Linked DNA regions of Homo sapiens: region 2 is linked to region 1. The links come from fine-mapping of genetic effects on gene expression. A gene starts in region 1. The other region holds a variant in brackets. All regions are shown on one strand. Distances are from middle to middle.

Region 1 (5,247 bases):
ACTAATGCCATCTGCCACAACCATTTTCCAAATAACATCCTATGCTGAGGTCCTGGGGGTTAGGATGTGATCATGTAGATTTTGATGGGACAGTTCTTTATTTTCTTTTATATTTTAGAGACAGGGTCTTGCTCTGTCACCCAGGCTGGAGTGCAGTGGTGTGATCATAGCTCACTGCAGCCTCGATCTCTTGGGCTCAAGTGATCCTTCTGCCTTGGGTTTCCGAGTAGCTGCAATTACAGGTGCACACCACCACACCTGGCTAATTTTTATATTTTTTGTAGAGACGGGGCTGGGTGCTGTGGCTCACCCCTGTAATTCCAGCACTTTGGGAGGCCGAGGCAGGTGGATCACCTTAGGTCAGGAGTTTGAGACCAGCCTGGCCAACATGGAGAAACCCCGTCTCTACTAAAAATACAAAATTAGCCAGGCGTAGTGGTGCATGCCTGTAATCCCAGCTACTTGGGAGGCTGAGGCAGGAGAATTGCTTGAACCCGGGAGGCCGAGGTTGCAGTGGACTGAGTTCGTGCCACTGCACTCCAATCTGGGTGACAGAGCAAGACTCCGTCTCAAAAAAAAAAAAAAAAAAAAAAGAGAGAGAGAGAGAGAGACAGGGTCTTGCTATGTTTCCCAGGCTGGTCTCAATCTCCTGGGCTCAAGTGATCCTCCTGCCTCAGCCTCCCAAAGTGTTGGGACTACAGGCATGAGCTACTGTGGCTGGCCAATTGCAGACAGATGGAACTGTGGCCAGCCACTTCACCAGTGAAGTCCCAAACACCCCTCTGCAGGCATGATAAGCTAGGGTAGTTCTTATCTTTTCCTGATTCCTGTTCTCTGTGTGTTTAGTGGGGACCACAGCAGGCAGGGTGGGGTGTTGGTGGAATTTGGGATAAGTGGAGTCTGGGCAGGCCTGGAGCTCTCTGTCTGCCTTCTGGGCCCGTGTTGGCTGACCCTGTTGCCCCCTCTGCCCTGCTTTGGCTGAGCTGAATTATTTCTTGGTCCTTCCCTTCTGGGGGCTTCTCGCTTAACCTCCTTTGTTGTCCCTGATAAAGGGGCCTTGTTAGCCCGCACCTTCCCTCCTTCGTCACTTGACTTCTGCCTGCTCATTCTTTGTACCTTAGTTTTAGCGTCACCTCCTCCAGGAAGTCTTCTTTGATTTCTCCTCCTCCCTAGGTCTCCTCTAGGCTCCCACAGCTGCCTGTGTTCCCTGCATGACAGCTCTGCTTTATACTGGGCACAACTTTCCCTCTTTCTTCACTCATCTGCTCTGGCTCATCTTTTGAGTTTCAGCTTAAGTGTCACCTCCTCCAGGAAGCCTCCTCTGATTTCCTCTCCTCCCTAGGCCTCCTCTGGGCTTCTCCCAGCTGCCTTTGTGTCCTCTATCCCAGCTCCCATCACCCCTGGTCACACAATCCACCTCCTCCTTTGGACTTCGAGCTCCGTGTCGGTGGATAGTGTGGCTTTGCTGGGGTCCCGGCTGTGTCCCCAGCACCCACCACACGGCTGGCACACAGTAGGTGCTCAGTGACCCAGCAGCACACTCAGAAACTCCCTTTCTAGCCGGGCGCGGTAGCTCACGCCTGTAATTTACAGCTACTCAGGAGGCTGAGACACAGGAATTGCTTGAACCCAGGAGGTGGAGGTTGCGGTGAGCTGAGATCAAGCCACTGCACTCCAGCCTAGGTGACAGAGACTACATCTCAAAAACAAACAAACAAACAAACAAACAAACAGAATTCTCACATGCTGCTGGCAGGGAGAGTGCTTGATTCTTTATCATTATATCTGAGGAAACTGAGACTCTGAGAGGTGAAGCGACTTGCCCAAAGCCACACAGCTGGGAAATGGAGGAGTTGGGATTTGAGCCCAGGCTCTTAATCGGCACCAATGCCACTTCTCACTTGGGACAGAAAGGAAGCCCTGACTCCTTAGGCAGCTGTACGGAGCCTGGGATGATAACGTGCTGAGAGCCAGGGCTACTGTCTGCTGCACCCTGGGGCTCAGTCTCCCCATCTGTACAAAGGGACGTTCCTTAGGTACCTCCAGCCCTGAGACACTGGGTTTTAACTTTAAATTTCTGATGAACAACAAATACTTTTTTAGTATAAGTATGCCCCAAATATGAATAAAGATAAATATAAATACCTGCCACCGACCCCTGCACAAACCGCAGGTTCCAGACTACAAGTCCCACAACCCACTGCGGCCTCCCTTAGGAACTGACTATCATGACTTTCTATTTTTCATTCATTCATTCAAAAATGGTATAGGCCACCCGCCGTGCGCCAGGTCTTGTGCTAGATGCCGGGGATACATCATATGCACAAAACAGACAAAAGTTTTTGCCTTCGTGGAGTTTGACATCTACATCCTCGGGAGTTTTAAGTGATTTTTGTTTTTCTCAGCAATTTCTGCCAGGACGACTACAGTTCCCGTGACCCTTTGTGTGTTTGACGGGACTACAACTCCCAGAAGACCTAGCGCGCCAGGCAGGCACTTCCTTTTCTCTTTATCCCCAACTTCCTTCCAGGTCGCAAGGTCACGTCCTGTCCCCACCTTTCGCCCCTCACCCTAGCTCCCCCAACGCCAAAGACAAGGTTAAGAAAGTGATATCGCGAAATAGTTTTTTAAAGCATTTTATTGCATTTTATGACTTGGAGTTTATGTGAAACCTCAACGGTATTAGCCGAACAGCCTGCCGCACCTTCCGGGAGTTCCAGAGTGGGCCTACAACTCCCACAGGGCTCCGCGAGCGCCGGACGGACGGACTACAATTCCCGACAGGCAGCGCGGCTGGCGGGGCGGTTCGCCGCGGTGCCCACAGGACCTCAGGGCGAGTGCGGGCTGCCCCGCGCGGCGCCCGCAGGACCCCGGCGGCTACCCATGCCGAGGTGAGTCCGCGGGAGCCGCCGCCGCCGCCGTCCCGTCCCAGCTGCCGCCCCGCGCGGCCCCGCCGCCGGCCAGGATGCTGGAGGAAGCGGGCGAGGTGCTGGAGAACATGCTGAAGGCGTCTTGTCTGCCGCTCGGCTTCATCGTCTTCCTGCCCGCTGTGCTGCTGCTGGTGGCGCCGCCGCTGCCTGCCGCCGACGCCGCGCACGAGTTCACCGTGTACCGCATGCAGCAGTACGACCTGCAGGGCCAGCCCTACGGTGCGTGTCCCCGGCCCACCCTCGGGGCTCCCCGGGCTCCCCGGCCACGCCACTCCGGCCCGGCGATCCCCAGGCCGATCCCTAGCTCCGGCCTGGGCTGCCCGACCCATGCTCAGGCCCCAGGCGAGGCAGAGCCCTGCCGCCCTGGACCCCCGGGCGCCCTGGAATCCCTGCTCTCCTTGCCTAGCGCCCAGGGACCCCCCGCGCTCGCTCCCACAGCCCCCGGCCCCTGCCTAGGTCTCCCTGCCCCGGAACCCATGGCCGGGCCAAGCGTCCCGCGTCCCTGGAGCCCTAAGTCCCCTCTCTCCTGTCCCCAGCTGGGCCGGCGTCTGCCTGCCTTGCCGAGTTTCTCCCTCCTGGGCCCCCTCCGCCCCTTAGGCTTCCTGGTCCGGGCTCACTTGAGCAGACGCTCCCGTCCTGACCTCCAGCTCCCAGGGTCCTGTTCTGGAGACCATCTGGTTGGTCTCTGGATTCACTGGGTCACGTCCGTGTTCCCAGGCCTCTCGCCTTTAGCTGACTGCGTTTGGAGTTAAAGGTCCCTGCACTGATTTCTGCCAGGCTGAGCCACCCGACGCGGTGGTCCAGCATTCCCCACCCCCTCCCACGGCCCTGGGTGCCAAGTGCATTTTGTCCAGTGCCCAAATTCAACTCCCCTGAATTTTCTCGCTCTAGTCACCGGCCCCCACGTCAAGGGCACATTTGTCCCCAGACCCCTGACGCTCTCTGGTCCCAGTTCGTGAGTCATGTTTCAGAATCTGCTAGCCCAGCTTCCCTGGTCTCCTCCCACGTCCCCAGTTCAGTCCACTCGCCTGGGGTTCCCTTTGACCCCCTTTCTGTCCCGCCTTTGATGCATACCCACGCCCTCAGCTCAGCCTCCTCACACCCACTTCCCAGAACCCCACTTGTTCCATCTTTCCAGGATTTCCTCTTCCCTTTCCAAATTCGCACCCCCTTGCCCTTGCATTCTGCAAGTCTCCCACTCAACAGCCTCGCCCCCTCCCGTCGTGGCCCTGACCCCAGTGTCTAGACCATTCCACATCCCCTTGTCTTTGCCTGGCTATAGCTGTCCCTGACATTCCAGAACCTGGTCCCTGGTTTTTCTTCTTTTCAGCCTGGCCCCTCAGGTCCCTGGAAGTCAAGGCCTGGCCTTCCCTGTGAAGGAGTCCCGTCCGCTTGTTCTCCTGGCCCCCTTAGTTCCCAGCCCGGATTCTCTTGGATTGGTCCCTCTCGTCACATCTCAGGCTCAACCTGAGGCGCGGGGACCCCCAGCTTCTGCCAGCCCTTGGGGAGCCCATCTCTGGAGATGGAACCAGACTTTGGCCTCAGGTCCCATTTTGCCCCAGAGTTACGATTTTTTTACTTAGAGCCATTGTTGTCAACCGAGGGGACGCTGGGTGATGTCTGGGGACATCTGTGGTTGTCACGACCACGGGTGCTCCTGGCATGGAGTGGGTGGAGGCCAGGGACGCTGCTCAATTCCCTGTAGTGCCCAGGACGGCCCCACCCCAGAGAACGATCCGGCCCTAATGTCCACAGTGTCCAGGGGAAGCGCCCTGGGGCCACAGTGGTGGTGTATAAACCCAAGGCCCAGGCTCTGGAGGGTGGGAGTGGAAGGCCAGAGGCTCCTCATGCAGTGACCGCGTTTTCCGTGCTGCTTGGGATTTTCCCGGGGGAAGGGTCCTGACGGGCACCATCCTGTAGAATCGCCTCCATCTTTGCTGCCTGGCACAGGAGCCAGCAGCCACAGGAGGCTGCCGAGCCCCCAAAGCGTGGCCTGTGCAACCGGGGGGCAGGATTTTCAGCGCTGCTTGAGGGTAATAAACGCAAGTAGCCACGCGTGCCTGCGGCTCTCATAGCGGCTTCCGTGGGGTTTCCAGGGCAGTCTGCACCCCAAAGACCCCACTCCTAGAGCTCGAGATACCCTGTTCACACTCTTGGCATCTCCTGCCTGGTCCTCCAGCTCACCCGGCCTCCCTCCAGCCCCCCGGGCAGGTGTGATCTGGTGGCTGCTACACTGTCCCTGGGCAGGTGTGGGCCCCCTTTCTCTCCCCAAGAACCCACCCAGGGAATGCATGTTGGCGGCTCCCTACACTGTCCC
Region 2 (5,474 bases), 20 kb after region 1:
AATAGCCAAGGCTGTGTTCCATTAGAATTTTTGGCCTGCCTGGGTGGCTTATGCCTATAATCCCAGCACTTTGGAAGCCTGCGGCAGGTGGATCACCTGTCAGGAGTTCGAGACCTGCCTAACGTGTTGAAACCCTGTCTCTACTAAAAATACAAAATTAGCCAGGTGTGGTGCTGCATGCCTGTAATCCCAGCTACTTGGGAGGCTCAGGCAGGATAATTGCTTGAACCCGGGAGGCAGAGGTTGCAGTGAGCCGAGACTGCACCATTGCACTCCAGCCTGGGCAGAAAGAGCGAAACTCCGTCCCAAAAGAAAAAAAAAAAAGAATTCTTCTTCTTTAAGTGAATAGACTTTATTTTTTTGATCTCCTCGTGTCTGTTGCCTGGTCGGTCACCCCGGTTCCTCCTGGGCTCAGAGAAGCCTCTAGAGCTGGGGTCTAACGTGGGGTGGCCCTGCTGCCTGGAGACACTGAGTGATTTGCAGTTGTCATTGGGGGAAGCTCCCGGTATGGGGTGGGTGAGGCCAGGGATGCCACTCAGCACCCTGAAGTGCCCAGGACAGCCTCACCTCAGAGAACCATCCAGCCCCAGTGTCCACAGGGCCGAGGGGTCATGCCCCGCCCTAAGGGGCTGGTCAGGATTTCCTGCTTTGGGGAGACCTTCATACCCTTCCTGGGGGACCTGTGACCTGGCCTGGTCCCTCCTCCACCCCAGGCGCTTGCCCGTCAAAGCTAACACTGGGTCTTCCCTCCCAGCTACAACCTCCTGTTCTTTGCGTCTGGAGGAGGCAAGTTTAACTACCAGGGAACCAAGCGCTGGCTGGAAGACAACCTGGACCACACAGGTGAGCGGCCCCGGGTGGGGGTGGGGGTGCCGCGGTGGTGGTGCCGTGGGGAGGCACGGAGGCCCAGGGGTTGCCATGGGGGCAGCCAGGAGGCACAGAGGGAGGGCCGGGGGCCACTTCCTGGTCCCCACCCACCCCGCCAGCTCTCGGTGTCCTGCAGACTCCAGCCTGCTTCAGGACAATGTGGCCTTCGTGCTGTGCCTGGACACCGTGGGCCGGGGCAGCAGCCTGCACCTGCACGTGTCCAAGCCGCCTCGGGAGGGCACCCTGCAGCACGCCTTCCTGCGGGAGCTGGAGACGGTGGGTGCCCCTTTCATGGATGGGTCCGGAGCTCTGCGGAGCACACACATCGGGGCCGGGTTGGGGCATCCTGTCCCAGGGTGTCCTTGCTGTCCGCCCCTCAGGCTCTGAGGGCCACACTGTGTCGGGGTCGGGCTGGGGTGTTCTGTCCTGGGGTGTCCTTGCTGTCCAACCCCGGGGCTCTGAGGGGCACACTGCGTCAGGGCCGGGCTGGGGTGTCCTGTCCCAGAGTGTCCCCTTGTCCCTCCTTACCCACTGCTCATTGCCCGCCGGGGCTCCAGCAGGCCTTAGGGGGACCCCGGGGGCAGGTGGATTTCTCCTCATTTTGCACCCTCGGGGGTTCTGGGAGGCCCCTGGAGCATTTGGGGAATGGGCTGGGGTGGCCGCCATCCCCGCCTGCCCTCTGCTAATGGCGCCTCCGGCTGCAGGTGGCCGCGCACCAGTTCCCTGAGGTACGGTTCTCCATGGTGCACAAGCGGATCAACCTGGCGGAGGACGTGCTGGCCTGGGAGCACGAGCGCTTCGCCATCCGCCGACTGCCCGCCTTCACGCTGTCCCACCTGGAGAGCCACCGTGACGGCCAGCGCAGCAGCATCATGGACGTGCGGTGAGCGCGGCAGCACCTGCCCGGCCCCTCCTAGGGCTTTCCTGGGGGCTGAGCCACTGGTCGCAACTGCAGAGGCCATGAGAGCCTGGAGGGAGCGGCCCCCACACACAGGCTGCGAGGAAGGGGCCGGTGCGTGGCCAAGGCCGGCTGCACGGTCAGGCCGTTCGCAAGCTCTTCCTTACTGGGGCTAGGGAGGGCGAGGCCAGCAGCCTGAGGTCGTGGCCCCATATAGGACCCCCAGACCCCGTCACCTGTTGAGTTAGGAGCAAGCAGCTCCTGCCTCTGGGCCTCTTCAGGGCCCTGCCACAGCCCGAAAGTCCTGCCTGGCCCCGGCCACCGTCTTGGGGAGCCTGGCCCGCCACCACACCCCGGCCCTTCCTCGCCCCGCCTCCCTCTGGGCACTGTGTCTCTGGCTTCTTATGTCCTCTGACCCTGTGTCCTGCCCGTCTCTCTGCCATCATGTGAGCCCCTGGGCAGGCTTTTGTGGAGCCTGGAACTGTCTGGCCACCCCAGGCACACTCCTGGCCAGTCCTGGCACCAGCAGGTGGGCGCCGTCTCCTCCCCCAGCGCCCGCAGTCCCGGCATAGATCCTTCCCGTTCATCCACTCTGCTCTGCGGTCACTGGGCCCTCAGGAGTGGTTTGAGCTCAGCCATCGGAGGCCTGCAGAAGCCAGTGGCGGGAGGGAGGGGCACATCCCTGGGTAATCGCAGTCCTGGAAAGGATGGAGGTGGCGGTCGCCCACCAGCCAGGAAAGATTGCCAGGAAATGAGGGTGGGTGCACGGCTGTCCCAGCTGTGCTGAGCTCTCTCAAGACCACCAGGGGTCAGCCCAGGAGGGCCACCTGGGATTTGCAGAGGGTCCCAGAATGGATTCTTCCACCAGGACGGAATAGTCCAGTTTAAATTCTGGAAGAGCAGAAAACCGAGTCAGAAGGAACCAAGGCCTCAGGGCGTGAGCCTTACCTGCGCACAGGGACGGGTCAGGGCAAGGGGCCTGGAGGTGTGGGGCCCCCAGTGAATCTGCATCTACATGTTAGCCAAGTAGTTAAAGCTAAGCTTAATTTTTTTTTTTTTTTAAAGACAGAGTCTCACGGTCTCCTAGGCTGGAGTGCTGGGATTACAAGTGTGAGAGCTACCTTGCCTGGCCCAAAGTCCACATTTTAAAACATTGTTTTTGAATCGTGAAGGTCCCGGGTGGATTCTAAGACCCTGACCCGTAACACGAGGATCATTGCAGAGGCCCTGACTCGAGTCATCTACAACCTGACAGAGAAGGTGAGCCCTGAGCCCTCTGTGCCGCCAGACCCAGCCCCAGCCCTG[C/CCCCCGG]CCCCGGCCCCGGCCCCACCCCTGGCCCCAGCCCCACTGCAGGGGCCTGGACTCAGGGCCATCCCCTCCTCTCTCCGCAGGGGACACCCCCAGACATGCCGGTGTTCACAGAGCAGATGGTAAGGGGGCCAGGCCAGTGGGTGGGTGGGTGGGCGGGGCCAGGCCATGACTACCACCACCGTCCCTACAGCAGATCCAGCAGGAGCAGCTGGACTCGGTGATGGACTGGCTCACCAACCAGCCGCGGGCCGCGCAGCTGGTGGACAAGGACAGCACCTTCCTCAGCACGCTGGAGCACCACCTGAGCCGCTACCTGAAGGACGTGAAGCAGCACCACGTCAAGGCTGACAAGCGGTGAGGCTGGGGCTCCGCGCTGGCCCCGTTCAGCCTGGGGCCGAGGGGGACCTCCCCCTACTGCATCTCCCACCCCCTCACCCCTGGGGGATGCCAGGTGGAGCAAATACAAAGAGAGGGTGGGATGAGGGCCGGACACGGCGGCTGTGCCTGCAATCCCAGTACTTTGGGAATCCGAGGCAGGTGGATCACTTGAGGTCAGGAGTTCAAGACCAGACTGGCCAACATAGTGAAACCTCATCCCTACTAAAAATACAAAAATTAGGCGGATGTGGCAGTGGGCACCTGTAATCCCAGCTACTTAGGAGGCCGGGACGGAAGAATCGCTTGAACCCAGGAGTTGGAGACCAACCTGGGCAACATAGCAAGACCCCATCTCTACAAACTTTTTAAAGTTTTTATTTATTTGTCTTTGAGATGGAGTCTTCCTCTGTCACCCAGGCTGGAGTGCAGTGGCGTGATCTTGTCTCACTACAGCCTCCATCTCCCGGCTTCAAGTGATTCTCGGACCTCGGTCTCCTGAGTAGCTGGGATTACAGGCACCCGCCACCATGCCCGGCTAATTTTTTTTAATTTTTAGTAGAGATGGGGTTTCACCGTGTTGGCCAGGTTGGTCTTGAACTCTTGACTTCAAGTGATCCGCCTGCCTCAACCTCCCAAAGTGCTGGGATTGCAGGTGTGAGCCATCGTGCCCAGTCTCCATCTCTACAAACCCTTTTTTAAGAATTAGCTGGGCGCAGTGGTGCCCCCTGAGAAAGTGCTCTCTCCCCAGGGACCCAGAGTTTGTCTTCTACGACCAGCTGAAGCAAGTGATGAATGCGTACAGGTGAGTGGTGGCCAGCGGGACCTGGAGCCCTTCACCCCCTACGGGTTACAGCCGAGGGGACTGCGGCCCACGGGGGTCTAGGGGTTCATGTTACTGCCGCGCACCATCCTCGACCTCAGGGACCCTGCTTTCTCCACAGAGTCAAGCCGGCCGTCTTTGACCTGCTCCTGGCTGTTGGCATTGCTGCCTACCTCGGCATGGCCTACGTGGCTGTCCAGGTGAGCAGTGCCCAGGCTCAGGTGGGGCAGGGGCCGCCCGCCGGGAGGAGCTGGGCTGGGCGTCTCCAAGTGCATCCTGGCCCCTGGCTCAGCCTAGAGTCACATGACCTGGGGCTCTGGCCCCGCCCACATCCTCACTCCCTCCTGCTGTGTCCCCAGCACTTCAGCCTCCTCTACAAGACCGTCCAGAGGCTGCTCGTGAAGGCCAAGACACAGTGACACAGCCACCCCCACAGCCGGAGCCCCCGCCGCTCCACAGTCCCTGGGGCCGAGCACGAGTGAGTGGACACTGCCCCGCCGCGGGCGGCCCTGCAGGGACAGGGGCCCTCTCCCTCCCCGGCGGTGGTTGGAACACTGAATTACAGAGCTTTTTTCTGTTGCTCTCCGAGACTGGGGGGGGATTGTTTCTTCTTTTCCTTGTCTTTGAACTTCCTTGGAGGAGAGCTTGGGAGACGTCCCGGGGCCAGGCTACGGACTTGCGGACGAGCCCCCCAGTCCTGGGAGCCGGCCGCCCTCGGTCTGGTGTAAGCACACATGCACGATTAAAGAGGAGACGCCGGGACCCCCTGCCCGATCGCGCGCGGCCTCCGCCCACCGCCTCCTGCCGCAAGGGGCCTGGACTGCAGGCCTGACCTGCTCCCTGCTCCGTGTCTGTCCTAGGACGTCCCCTCCCGCTCCCCGATGGTGGCGTGGACATGGTTATTTATCTCTGCTCCTTCTTGCCTGGAGGAGGGCAGTGCCAGCCCTGGGGTTCTGGGATTCCAGCCCTCCTGGAGCCTTTTGTTCCCCATGTGGTCTCAGTGACCCGTCCCCCTGACAGTGGGCTCGGGGAGCTGCATCACCCAGCCTTCCCCTTCTCCGACTGCAGGGTCTGATGTCATCATTGACAGCCTTTGCTTCGTGGGGGCCTGGCAGGGCCCCTGCCTCCCCGACCCCCGACCCACTGCAAATCCCCGTTCCCCTGCACTCCTCTTCTCCCAGCCCATCCCTCCGGCCCCTGTGCCTC

What was found. PIP is the estimated chance that this variant, and not a neighbour inherited with it, causes the effect. A credible set is the group of variants that fine-mapping cannot tell apart.
Region 2: its variant is the best candidate, but not a certain one, in a credible set for the expression of NCLN in whole blood (INTERVAL, PIP 0.61).

Annotation. Positions count from the first base shown.
Region 1 is chr19:3,183,066-3,188,312 of GRCh38, forward strand. NCLN (nicalin) reads left to right here and starts at 2,865. Exons shown (of 15, transcript NM_020170.4): 1 at 2,865-3,149. The coding sequence starts at 2,966. RefSeq lists enhancers at 1,943-2,825, 2,132-2,271 and a silencer at 2,782-3,351.
Region 2 is chr19:3,203,002-3,208,475 of GRCh38, forward strand. It overlaps NCLN (nicalin), which reads left to right. Exons shown (of 15, transcript NM_020170.4): 7 at 755-843; 8 at 1,004-1,143; 9 at 1,572-1,750; 10 at 2,938-3,025; 11 at 3,151-3,189; 12 at 3,261-3,424; 13 at 4,197-4,250; 14 at 4,390-4,468; 15 at 4,628-5,474. The coding sequence ends at 4,687. Among named protein-coding and RNA genes, the nearest start is that of CELF5, 19 kb to the right of the region's middle. The variant C/CCCCCGG (reference allele first, on the strand shown) is at 3,071.